Linked DNA regions of Homo sapiens: regions 1 and 2 are each linked to region 3. The links come from fine-mapping of genetic effects on gene expression. A gene starts in region 3. Each other region holds a variant in brackets. All regions are shown on one strand. Distances are from middle to middle.

Evidence for each region.
Region 1: its variant is fine-mapped to the expression of CALHM2 in blood mononuclear cells (TOPMed, PIP above 0.99).
Region 2: its variant is fine-mapped to the expression of CALHM2 in whole blood (INTERVAL, PIP above 0.99).

Annotation. Positions count from the first base shown.
Region 1 is chr10:103,328,044-103,332,043 of GRCh38, reverse strand. All of the region lies in intron 7 of PCGF6 (polycomb group ring finger 6), which reads left to right. Among named protein-coding and RNA genes, the nearest start is that of PCGF6, 21 kb to the left of the region's middle. The variant A/C (reference allele first, on the strand shown) is at 1,956.
Region 2 is chr10:103,478,714-103,482,900 of GRCh38, reverse strand. CALHM3 (calcium homeostasis modulator 3) reads left to right here and starts at 3,661. Exons shown (of 3, transcript NM_001129742.2): 1 at 3,661-4,155. The coding sequence starts at 3,869. NEURL1-AS1 (NEURL1 antisense RNA 1) reads left to right here. Exons shown (of 4, transcript NR_120675.1): 4 at 2,904-3,298. The variant C/T (reference allele first, on the strand shown) is at 1,972.
Region 3 is chr10:103,449,981-103,454,149 of GRCh38, reverse strand. It overlaps CALHM2 (calcium homeostasis modulator family member 2), which reads left to right and starts at 1,780. Exons shown (of 4, transcript NM_015916.5): 1 at 1,780-1,994; 2 at 2,865-3,067; 3 at 4,051-4,169. It overlaps CALHM1 (calcium homeostasis modulator 1), which reads left to right. Exons shown (of 2, transcript NM_001001412.4): 2 at 1-910. It overlaps LOC124902494 (a long non-coding RNA gene), which reads right to left and starts at 1,707. Exons shown (of 2, transcript XR_007062275.1): 1 at 914-1,707. RefSeq lists a silencer at 1,379-1,708 and enhancers at 1,547-2,168, 2,169-2,789, 2,738-3,107.

The sequences.
Region 1 (4,000 bases), 120 kb after region 3:
GAGGTGGGCAGATTACGAGGTCAGGAGATCAAGACCATCCTGGCTAACAGTGAAACCCCATCTCTACTAAAAATACAAAAAAAATTAGCCAGGCGCGGTGGCGCGTGCCTGTTGTCCCAGCTACCCGGGAGGCTGAGGCAGGAGAATAGTGTGAACCTGGGAGGCGGAGCTTGCAGTGAGCCAAGACCTCACCACTGCACTCCAGCCTGGGCGACACAGCGAGACTCTGTCTCAAAAAAGAGAGAGAGAGATGTATTAAATGACACTGAAGGAATATAATAAGCCAGATCAAGATAGTGGAAAACTACATAGCAACCAATTCTGTTTCTTCAGCAAATAAATTAAAAAGGAAAGAGATGAAGAATAAACCTACAGATGAAACCTATTGAGAAAAGTAACTTAAGGGACATATAAATTAATTACATTGTGTGCACATTATTTGGATTTGATTTGAAATATATATGTATTTTTAATAATCTCAAATTGGGCTGGGGACATTGGGTCATGCCTGTAATCCTAGCACGTTGGGAGCCCAAGGCAGGTGGATCTCCTGAGTTCAGGAGTTCGAGACTAGCCTGGCCAACATGCCAAAACTCTATCTCTATTAAAAATACAAAAATTAGCCAGGCGTGGTGGTGGGCACCTATAATCCCAGCTACTTGGGAAGCTGAGGCAAGAGAATCACTTGAACCCGGAGGGCAGAGAACTTGGCGAAGTGAGCTGAGATCATGCCACTTCACTCCAGCCTGGGCAAAAGAGCGAACCTCTGTCTCAAAAAACATAATAACCCCAAACTGGAAACAGTGTATATAACCTATTAGCTGATGAATGGATAAACAAAATGTATTTTCATATAATAGAGTATTATTTGACAGTAAAAAGGAATGAAGTACTGATACATGGTCTGACATGGGTAAACATTGAAAACATGATGCTAAGGAAAAGAAGCCAGTCACAAAAGGCCATCCATATATTATATGATTTCATTTATCTGAAATGTGCAGAACAAGAAAATCCACAGGAGCAGAAAGCAGATTAGTGGTTGTCAGAGGCTTGGGGAAGAGGCTGAATGGGGAGTGACTACCAAGAGGTACAGGTTTCTTTTTTTCTTGTTGGAGATGGAGTCTCGCTCTGTCACCCAGGCTGGAGTGCAGTGGCGCAATCTGGGCTCACTGCAACCTCTGCCTCCCAGGTTCAAGCAGTTCTCCTGCCTCAGCCTCCCAAGTAGCTGGTATTACAGGTGCGCCCCACCACGCCCAGCTAATTTTTTGTATTTTTAGTAGAAACGGGGTTTCACCGTGTTAGCCAGGCTGGTCTTGAACTTCTGACCTCAGGTGATCCACCCGCCTTGGCCTCCCAAAGTGCTGGGATTACAGGCGTGAGCCACCTTGCCCAGCCAGGCGTCTTTTTAGGGTAATGAAAATATTCTGAAATTACATAGCAGTGATGGTTGCAAAATTTTGTAGATATACTAAAATCCATTTAATCGTACACTTTTAAAGGGTGAATTTAATGGTATGTGAATTACATCTCAATAAAGCTGTTGATTTTTTTTTAATACCTAAGCCAAGATTCGATAGAAACTTTGAATAGAAACATTGTTTGTAATTTGCTTGGTGTAAACATTTTGGGGATATAAAAATGTATCTGGTTGAAACAATATATGCTTGTCCAGGCACGGTGGCTAACGCCTGTAATCCCAGCACTTTAGGAGACCAGGACGGGAGGATCACTTGAAGTTAGGAGTTGAGACCAGCCTCGGCAACATGGGGAAACCCTGTCTCCACTGAAAGTACAAAAATTAGCCCGGTATGGTGATGCATGCCTGTAATCCCAGGTACTCAGGAGGGCTGTGGCAGGAGAATTGCTTGAACCCGGGAGGCAGAGGCTGCAGTGAGCCGAGATTGCGCCACTGCATTCCAGCCTGGGCTAAAGCAAAACTTCATCTCAAAAAA[A/C]AAACAAACAAACAAAAAACAGGCCGGGCACAGTGGCTCACACCTGTAATCCCAGCACTTTGGGAGGCTGAGGCGGGTGGATCACGAGTCAGGAGATCGATACCATCCTGGCTAACACCCGTCTCTACTAAAAATACAAAAAATTAGCAGGGCATGGTGGCAGGCGCCTGTAGTCCCAGCTACTCGGGAGGCTGAGGCAGGAGAATGGCGTGAACTCAGGAGGCAGAGTTTGCAGTGAGCCAAGATCGTGCCACTGCACTGCAGCCCAGGCGACAGAGCGAGACTGTCTCAAAAACAAACAAACAACAAAAAAACTGGCCGGGCACGGTGGCTCACACCTATAATCCCAGCACTTTGGGAGGCTGAGGTGGGCAGATCACCTGAGGTCAGGAGTTTGAAACCAGCCTGGCCAACATGGTGAAACCCTGTCTCTACTAAAAAAACAAAAATTAGTGTGGTGGCTCACGCCTGTAGTCCCAGCTACTTGGGTGGCTGAGGCAGGAGAATTGCTTGAACTCGGGAGGCAGAGGTAGCAGTGAGCCAAGACCGCGCCATTCCACTCCAGCCTGGGCAACAAGAGCAAAACTCCATCTCAAAAACATATATATGTATATGCTTATGTTAGAATTTTTGTTTAAGCCCGTTACTGGTTATATTTTTTTCATGAAATCTTTGTTTCAGTTTTCTCTTTTAGTAATGACAGCCCTATAAAACAATAAAATCATTTTCTACTAGGTTTAAGAAATTGGGGCCGGGTGCGGTGGCTCACGCCTGTAATCCCAGCACTTTGGGAGGCCAAGGCGGGTGGATCACCTGAGGTCAGGAGTTTGAGACCAGCCTGACCAATATGATGAAACCCCATCTCTACTAAAAATACAAAATTAGCCAGACGTTGGTGGCGGGTACCTGTAGTCCCAGCTACTTGGGAGGCTGAGATAGGAGAATCACTTGAATCCAAGAGGCAGAGGTTGCAGTGAGCCGAGATTGTGCCACTGCACTCCAGCCTGGGTGACAGAGCGAGACTCCATCTCAAAAGTTAAAATCCGCCGGGCGCAGTGGCTCACGCCTGTAATCCCAGCACTTCGGGACGCTGAGGCCGGTAGATCATGAGGTCAGGAGATCGAGACCATCCTGGCTAACACAGTGAAACCCTGTCTCTACTAAAAATACAAAAAATAGCGTGGTGGTACACGCCTGTAGTCCCAGCTACTTGGGAGGCTGAGGCAAGAGAATCGCTTGAATCCGGAAGGCAGAGGTTGCAGTGAGCCACGATCGCTCCACTGCACTCCAGCCTGGGTGACAGAGCAAGACTCCATCTCAAAAACAAAAAACAAACAAAAAAAGTTAAAATCCTGTACATAAAGAGCAAAAATGATGCAAATAATCTTAGAGACAAATGGCTCACAACACTAACAACTCTTCAGTGCTTACTATGTGACAGGTATTTTTATTATTTACATACATTAACTTATTTTCATGATAATTGTATGAAGCAGGTGCTATTTTTATCTATTTTACAAATAGAGACACAGACAAGTTCAGGAACTTGCCCAAAGACTCACTATTAGAAAATGGCAGAACCAGGGTTTGAGCCCAGGTGTCTGCCTGGAGTGCCTACACTCAACACCTATTCTGTATGCTGTACTGTGGTAATAACGGGCAGACCATTTATCAGTTGCTCAAGTATAACAAGCAAGCCCAAGACACCTAGAAAAATAAAATACCTATCTAATATAGACTCTGAGTTTTAGTTGGGAAAGTTCTCAAGAACAAACTACTGTACAGATAGGAAAGCTGAGTGCTGTAACATGGAACAAATGTGTGCCTCGGTTCCCTAGGTAGCCATTCTAGGCTCCCAGTCTGTAAGTCCTAAAAAAACACTTTGTGCTTTTCCTGTAAGGGACTGTTTAGTTCTGATTACTTCAGCTTTTTATTTGCATGAGGTCGTAGCATCGTTAGTTGTCTCAGATCGGAGCTGGGTAAGCATTAGTTTTTACTTTCAAACTCTGTCATCTACTTATCACCTCCTACACCTCAAACTATTG
Region 2 (4,187 bases), 29 kb before region 3:
TTCTGCAAATTAAGAAAAAGAGGCCTTTGTGTGGCAAATACCCTTCCTTCAGTTTGTTATTTTTATTTTGTTTATTGGTATGTTTGCCCATAGAAGCGTCTAGTTTTTATGACTCTTACTTGTCCATCTACTCCTCTACAGCTACTAAATTCTGGGGTCTGTTCACAAAGGCCTTCCTTAGCCTCTGATTATGAATAAATTCCCTTACGTTTTCCTGTAGAATTTTTATGATTTTAATTTTTATGTTGAATCTTTGAACCATGTGAAAATTATTTTGGTATGAAGCATGAAGTAGAGATTGCTCCCGAATGGCTAGCCAGTTGTTCCAGCGCCATCTGTTAGATGGCCCCATTTCATTTCCAGCCTGTCTCTGCCCTTAGGGCTACACGGCTCTGTGGAGTCACCAGAGTGGGGCCCACAGAAGTGCCACGTTGCTTTCCCCGGGTCTGCCAGGACCGCTCAAAGGCCTGTGTCCTCAGGGAAGCAGAGAATCACGCCACCGAGAGACAGAAAGGGCACCACCCTCTGCTAGACACACAGAACAACAGTCTCCCAGTCCTGAGAAGTGGGACGCACGTTCAATGCCTTCCCTGTGAAGGAAAAAGAAAAGAAAGAACTGTCAGGGGAGGGCATACTCACCATATACAAAGTAGGAAGACGGCCACACCCATATGTATGAAAACACACATGCATACACACACCAAATATGTACACATGCACTACGCACATACACATACATGTGTACACACATGCATACACAGGTACATAGACACATCTCTCACACATCACATACAACGAGTTTCTCCAGTAGGGGGCATCTAGTCCTAAACAGCCCTCTCAATAACAGGAACTCCAAGAACGGTGAAGCCAGTGTTTCTCAAATAATATCCAGACTCCTTTGCAAAGATCAAAAAAAACTGGAAGACCCCCAAGAATATATCTGCAAGACTCCAATTTGAAAATAAAACAAAATAACATGAAGAAAGTACCAAAGATTTATTCTATAAAGATCTTCCAATTGCAAATTAACACATATTTACAACTGGTTTTAAAAAAAAAAAAAAGATTAAATCATTATTAAAAAGAAAAATGTAATTTATTTTTAGTCTCTCTTTGTTGCCCAGGCTGGAGAGCAGTGGCATGATCTGGGCTCACTGCAGCCTCCGCCTCCTGGGTTCAAGCAATTCTCATGCCTCAGCCTCAAGAGAGGCAATTCTCAAGCCTCAGCCTCCCAAGTAGCTGGGATTACAGGCATGCACCACTATGCCCGACTAATTTTTTGTATTTTTAATAGAGATGGGGTTTTGCCATGTTGGCCAGGCTGGTCTCAAACTCCTGAGCTCAGGCAATCTGCCTGCCTCGGCCTCCCAAAGTGCTGGGATTACAGGCGTGAGCCACCACGCCCGGCCAGATCTGCAATTTAATATCTTTCCATATGTGTGAGTAAAAGAAGCCTTTCTCCATTTATTGCTGCCTCTAGTTCTCTCTCTACTAGTTCAGCAGGGCCAAGCTCCAGGCAACAAAATGGAATTCTCCTTTTTGCCTTGTCCTTTTATCTTTTTATGTTTTTCTAATTAAAATGTTTTATGATTTTTGCTGGAAATAGTTAAAAATCATTATTATGATTATAGTAATGATTTATTATGTCTACTATTATAAAAGTCGACAATTCAGAAAATAGAGATTTAAAAAAAAATGTAAGCCATCCCCTCTCTTTGACAGATAATATCCCTTTTGTGGTGGGCTTCTTTCTGGCCTGTTTCTTTACTGAAGTATTTCCTGTAAATACCCGGCAAGGGTCAGCCCCGCTGCAGTCACTCAGCACCTGTTGCCCTGCAGGGCTCCAGGGACCCAGGCTGACCTGGTAGCTCTGTCTTACCTCTCAGAGGCTGGAGCTGTGAAAAGGTTGGCCTGGAGTCTTTGACCCAGTTTTCTTCAAAGTGTTCTTCCAGAAGCATTGTCTATTGTTTT[C/T]TGAACTCTCAAGGTTAGAGTGGCTGGGGACCCTTAGGACACTCTATCCCTCCCTGAGACTAGAATGGGATTGAGGGGTGCTCATGACCCTCCCAGCCCAGTTAGCTCCCCGCCTGCTCCACACCAGCCCTGCTGGTTCAGGGTCACGAAGCCTGGCCTTGGGCCAGGACAGTCCCCTTTTCTGGTCAGCAGCCCAGTGGGTGACTAAGGCTGAAAGGCACAGATGGAGGATCCCAGCTTCCTCCCTGGCTCTGTCCCCGCCAGGGTATGTGACCTCCAACAGCCCCTCTGGGACTGTACCCACCTGAAGTTGTGGTGGTCCTCCTGGCTTGAAGGGTTTCTCACCCCTGCCCCGCCCTCTCCTCCGCTCAGAGTCAGACTCACAGGGCCACTGGTGGCTCTCCCCATCTTCTCCAGTGCCTCATTTCCCTCACACAGGGAAATCTGTCTCATAGGACCTAGAGTAACGTACAAATATGGAAAATAAAAATACTAAGTGGCCAGGCTCAGTGGCTCATGCCTGTAATCCCAGCACTTTGGAAGGCCAAGGGGGCCAAATCACCTGAGGTCAGGAGTTCGAGACCGGCCTGACCAACATGGCAAAACCCCTGTCTCTACTAAAAATACAAAAATTAGCTGGGCGTGGTGGTGGGTGCCTGTAATCCCAGCTACTTGGAAGCTGAGGCAGGAGAATCACTTGAACCCGGGAGGCAGAGGCTGCAGTGAACCAAGATCGTGCCACTGCACTCCAGCCTGGGTGACAGAACAAGACTCTATCTCATAATAATAATAATAATAAGTAAGACCCAGGTTTCTGTCTGTCTTCATCAGAAGTACAGACCACACAGATGGTTACGAAATTTGCAAGACTTATTTGGGATGATCTGACTTACAATATGGGCCAAGTGACCTTTACAAAATTCGTTTTGCAGGTTTCAGGGGTCCCTCAAACATCTGGGCTGTCATCCTTCGGAGAGACTGGAACTGAGACACAAGGAGAGACCTAGTGATGTGGGAGAGTTAGGAGAAGAAGCAGTGATTTCAAACGCATGCCCCTCACACGGAAGAAGGGCAGGGGGAAAGCCATGCAGGTGTGGGCGTGGCACTTGAGCAGCCTCTCCCATGGGCACCCAGTGGTTAATGCACAATGTTTAGCACGTCGCCCAGGGAGGCCATCCCCTTCCGCTACCCCTTTCATGGCAAATGCTGAAACATCGTTGAAGACTCCTCTCAAGGGTCTCCTCTTCCAGGAAGCCTTCGGTCAGGAATAGGTGCCCCTTCTGGCTCCTCCTAGCCTGAAAGCCAACATGAAATCTCCCTGGGCTGAGCTGAGTCGTCATATTTTGTTGTTGTTGTTGCTGTTGTTTTACTATGCCTGTGAGACAAGTTCAGAGTCATGCTTTTGATCAAGACCAGAAAATATACTACCTTGGCTCCATCAGCATCTTTTCCTCACCACACCCAGAATTTGCCTGTCCCCCGAAGGAAGCTCCAACGGCTGTCAAGCCTGAGCATCCAGACCGTAAAGCAAAGAGAAATGGGCCGGGAGGAATGGAGTGACAGGGCGGGGCCCATTTGCCTAGAGGTGCTTTGGGCTGCCCGGTCACAGAGGGTGACTCACTCCCCCAGACAGGAGGGGAGTGGCACCAGGGGACCATTGGGCTGGGCAGGGGAGCCTTTGTGGTGAGAGCCTGTCCCTGCCTTAAGTGCCTACTGGATCCCGGGAGCCTGGGCTGGGGCCTGGGCACTGCTTCCTCCTTGGCCCCTCAGGCCCTTGGAAGCAGAGAGAGAACCTCTTGCAGATCCCAGGCTCGTCCCCAGCACAGCAGACACCAGGAAGGTGGCCAGAGCCTCACTGAGCCGAACCGACGGCCGCCCACCCACCCAGGCTGGAGCCATGGATAAATTCCGCATGCTCTTCCAGCACTTCCAGTCAAGCTCGGAGTCGGTGATGAATGGCATCTGCCTGCTGCTGGCTGCGGTCACCGTCAAGCTGTACTCCTCCTTTGACTTCAACTGTCCCTGCCTGGTGCACTACAATGCACTCTACGGCCTGGGCCTGCTGCTGACGCCCCCGCTCGCCCTGTTTCTCTGCGGCCTCCTCGCCAACCGGCAGTCTGTGGTGATGGTCGAGGAGTGGCGCCGGCCCGCAGGGCACCGGAGGAAGGACCCAGGCATCATCAGGTGCGGTCCCACACCACTCAGTGACCCATGAG
Region 3 (4,169 bases):
AGGGTGGCTAATGTATTTGTTGATTTCTGAACCTAAGGACTTCCTTCCTCCTCCCCTGGGCAGGGATGAGACAGCAACACAAACACTCGAGCTTCCATCTTGTTGAGGAGGAAACAGAGGTACAGATAGGTTTCTCAGCACCGCCCTCAGCTCTGAGACATAAGTCCCAAGCATCTAAGGATTCATTTTGATCTTGGCATGATTCCATCCTTTTTTATCCATCCTTCCCTCTATTCCCACTTCTGGGGTCCAGTTTCCCTCCTCTTAATTATTTGGGAGGAGTTGCTCAGATCTTTGTGGGCCAAGGTGGGCTGGGAGGGCTCTTCCAGGAGGTAGGAGTTGGTATGGGCCCTGAAGTCAGGGAGGATTAGGATGAGCAAAAAACAAGGTGTATGTTGGTGGGTGGCAGCACTTCCAGTGGGAAGAGAAGGCCCGGAGGTATCAGGAGGTACAAATGTGATGAAGAGCAAAGCTTTGGGTCAGGCACACCTGAGTTCAAATACCAGCACTGCAGGACTTGTGGCCAGTCACCCAGCCACTCTAAGCCTCAGTGTGTCTGTCTATAAAATGGATATTAGAAGACCTGCTTGGCCAGGCGGAGTGGCTCATGCCTGTAATCCCAGCACTTGGGAGGCCAAGGAGGGAGGATCACTTGAGCCTGGGAGTTGGAGACCAGCCTGGGCAACATAGCAAGACTCTGTCTCTGTAAAGTAATAATAATAATAAGAAGAAGAAGAAGAATAAAGAGAAGATTTATAATTTTTTTAAAATGAAAAAATTATTTTTTAAAAAAGACCTGATTTTCAGGATTGTGGTAAGGATAGAGGAAGATAACTTTTAGGGAAGGATCTGGGACTGTGTTTAGCACATGCTGGGATCTGAAACAAACAAATAAACAAGCAGAACTTGGTACCTTTTCTTTCCTTCGTACATATGGTCAAGCCCAGCTCAGGGAGGCCAGCGGGTCACTCGGCAGCTCCACCATGACGGAACCACGAGCACTGCAGAGCTGACAGATGTCGGGGGTCCTCTCCCTCCATGCTAAGGGTCATCTAGCCTGTCCGTAGACTCTCCTGTGCAGCATTCCTGACCCGTGACGCTTCAGCCCGCATCTTGACCACTTTTAGATACAGGCTGGGCAGCTCTGATTATTACACAGGGCTTCCTTCAGAAACCTGCCTCCTTGTAACTTTCACCCACCAGTTGGAGCTCTGCCTGCAGGACCCGGAGAATCCCTAGGCTCCTGAATTCAATCCTCAGCCCTCCAGGGATCCGAAGCAGGTCCCGGGGAGTTAGCTGACTATAGGTCAAAGAGTCAGCATTGGGGATGGTTTGTCCAGTCAATGGACAACTCTGAGGGAGAAGGGCCAGTAGAGGGTGGGGCCCTGGCCCTGAGCATCCTGCAGGGCTCAGCGCGGGCCTGACGACACCCTCCCTTGACCCTCGCGGGGTCTCCTTTGGTAGCTTCTGCCCAGCGGGGGTCAAGTACGTGGGGTGCTCTTGAAACTGTCATGGGGGGCAGGTCTGGGTCAGATCTCCCCAATGCCTCCACATCCCCACGTGGCCCTCCCGACTGGTCCCATTGGTGTGGAGCATGGCCCGGTCCGGGTCTGGGCCGAGGGCGGAGGGCCAGCACGGCCCAGGGACGGCGAGCAGCGGGTCGGTGGGACGCGCAGCAGCTGCAGAACAGGCATCTCAACTTCCTCTCGGCTCCTCTCCTCTCGCGCCGCCCTCGGGGCCCGCCCTCCTCTGCCTGGTGGCGCCGGGAGGCTGTTTTTCCACTCACTGGCGCGCAGACTCCATCCCACTGTTTTCTTCTCTCTTTTCTGGAGTTAGATTAGTCTGAAGCCGCCACCAGCCCCAGGCCCCCGTGCAGAAGAAAAGCGGGAGGGAACGGCGGAGGCCGCCGCTGCCCTGCACCGCCCTCCTGGAGGCCACTTGGAGAGTCCGGCCCCGAGGAGGCCATGGCCACAAGTGCCCACAGCTGGCCCCAGGTAAGGAAGGGGCCCTCCCTGGGGTGTGCCAGGTGTCAGCGGAGCATGGTGGGGCCTGTCCCACGCTGCCCAGAGGGAGAGAGGCCCCTAGCTGAGGTTCCCTCCACCCGGTTGAACAGGGAGCAGTCCTGCCCCTCCCCGAGCCGCCAGTCTCCTGTCGTCACTGATGTTGGAGGAGGTCCCACTGGGGGTCTGGATGTGACCCATCCTTGGCCTGGGGGCAGTGGTCTCAGAAGATGGCCTGGCCCATCCTCTGCTCACCACCCACCCTGTGCAGGTATCTTGTACCCCACTTTGAGCCAGTTTATGAACCCAGGGCCTCCACAGGGAGCTAATTAGGAGCCTAGAAGCCAAGAAGGGAAAAGGATGGGGCAAAGGGGGCTGACTTTAACCCATTCTTCCCCAGCAGTGATGCAAACTGCCTTTCCCAGGAAGTTAGGCTGGAAGCTCCAGGCTGTGAAGTGGGGGAAGAATCAGACTCCTCCTCCTCCTCCTCCTCCTCCTCCTCCTCCTGTTGTTCCTCCTGGTCCTCCTCCTCCAGCTTCTCCTTTTCTTGGAGTCTGCATGGCCACATGGCTCTGCCTGAGCCCATCTGGCAGCCTTCCTTGGCAGGGACAGAAGGGGTGATCTAGAAGGGGTGATCCCTCCATGAAGCATGGAAGGGAACAGGGCTAGGTCTGTGTTTGGCGCTCACCCCATCCCTCCACTCCCTGGCTTCCTCTGGCCTGGGGAGTTTTGTTTTTCACCCTCCAGAGGGGGAGGACATGGGGCCACACCCTGGCCTGTCTCTCAGGCTTGTGTGGGTGGAGGCTGGGAAGGGAGTTGGGCTAAACTTCGCTGTTGCCCGAGGCCATGGCCACTTCCCGGCAGGTTGCCAGCGTCGCTACAGCCCAGACCAAGGCAGAATAATCTCCGGATGAGCTGGTGGCACCGCTGAGCCTTTGGTCTCACCAGGGCTTCCTGTTGCTGGCAGGCGGGGTGGAGCGGAGCTGCTGGGAGGCTGCTGGATAGGAGAGGGGTCACGGCTGCGGAAGAGGAGGTTCTTCGGGACACCCGTGGATGGACACGGCAAGGTCAGTAGGAGACAGAAAAAAAGAGGGTTCACTTAGTGCAGAATCACCCTTATCCACTTCCCAAGTCTCCTTAGGTTGTGGTTAGAGGTCCTGCTGTGGCACCTCTGTATTTCTTGGGCCTCAGCAAGGCACTTTATCCTCTTCAGGTCTCAGTTCCCTGATCTTTGCAGGCAGGAGAATCGTCCCCACCCCAAAGACAAGACAGGGTGGAAGAGATGGAGAGTTTCACGCAGAGCACAATCAGGCATCTTTTATTCTTTTCTTTCCCTCCAACATCCCTAGGAAAGAGCAAGGCTCAGGATGATTTATCCTCTTTTCACTGATGAGGAATCTGAGGCCCAGAGAACAGTCATGAAGTGTGATCAGACCCTGAGGTCTCCAAAAAGATAATGTCCTTGCGAACTCCAGGGATTCTGGCATCTTGCTGTACCCACCCCAGCCCACACGGCAGGATCCTATCCAAGTCCCTTATCCACCCGGACACTCACTTTAGCTTTTACACCCTCAAGGCTGAGACCCTAAGGACACGCCCTGGATCCAAGGAGTCCCTGGCCCCTCTGCTAATATGCGCCACCTGGACTCCCAGAGGGAAAGCCGGTCAGCACCCCACATGCATTAGCACCATGGGCCACCCCCAAGCCCTACCCCAGGAGAAGCTCGTGGTGGCAAAAAGAACCTAAGCATTTGAGGCAGGTCACCCAAGCTTGAATCTCAGTCTGCCTCTCATCTGTGACCCTGGCGAGCCACTCGTCCTCAGGAAGCCTTCACTTTCCCTAGTGCACGGCGGGCACACAGCTCAACGTGGGACTGTGAGGATGGGAAATGAGGGGTGCCATGCACCCTGGAGGAACTCAGTGAACAGTGGCAACTGTCACTTCCCTGGGGCCCTATGGTCCTTCCTTTCTCCCCAGCCTGTCCACACTAGCATCTTCCTCAACTCCTGGTTTTCAGAGGGAAACACTTATCGGTCATCTGCTCCACAGGAAACACCAGGCCAACCACAGCTGGGGATAAAATAGCACAACCACACCCTGCCGTCCAGCGCCTCCCAGCCTGTGCCCCTTCCTAGTACCACCAGCAACCATCAATCCCGTCTCCTCCT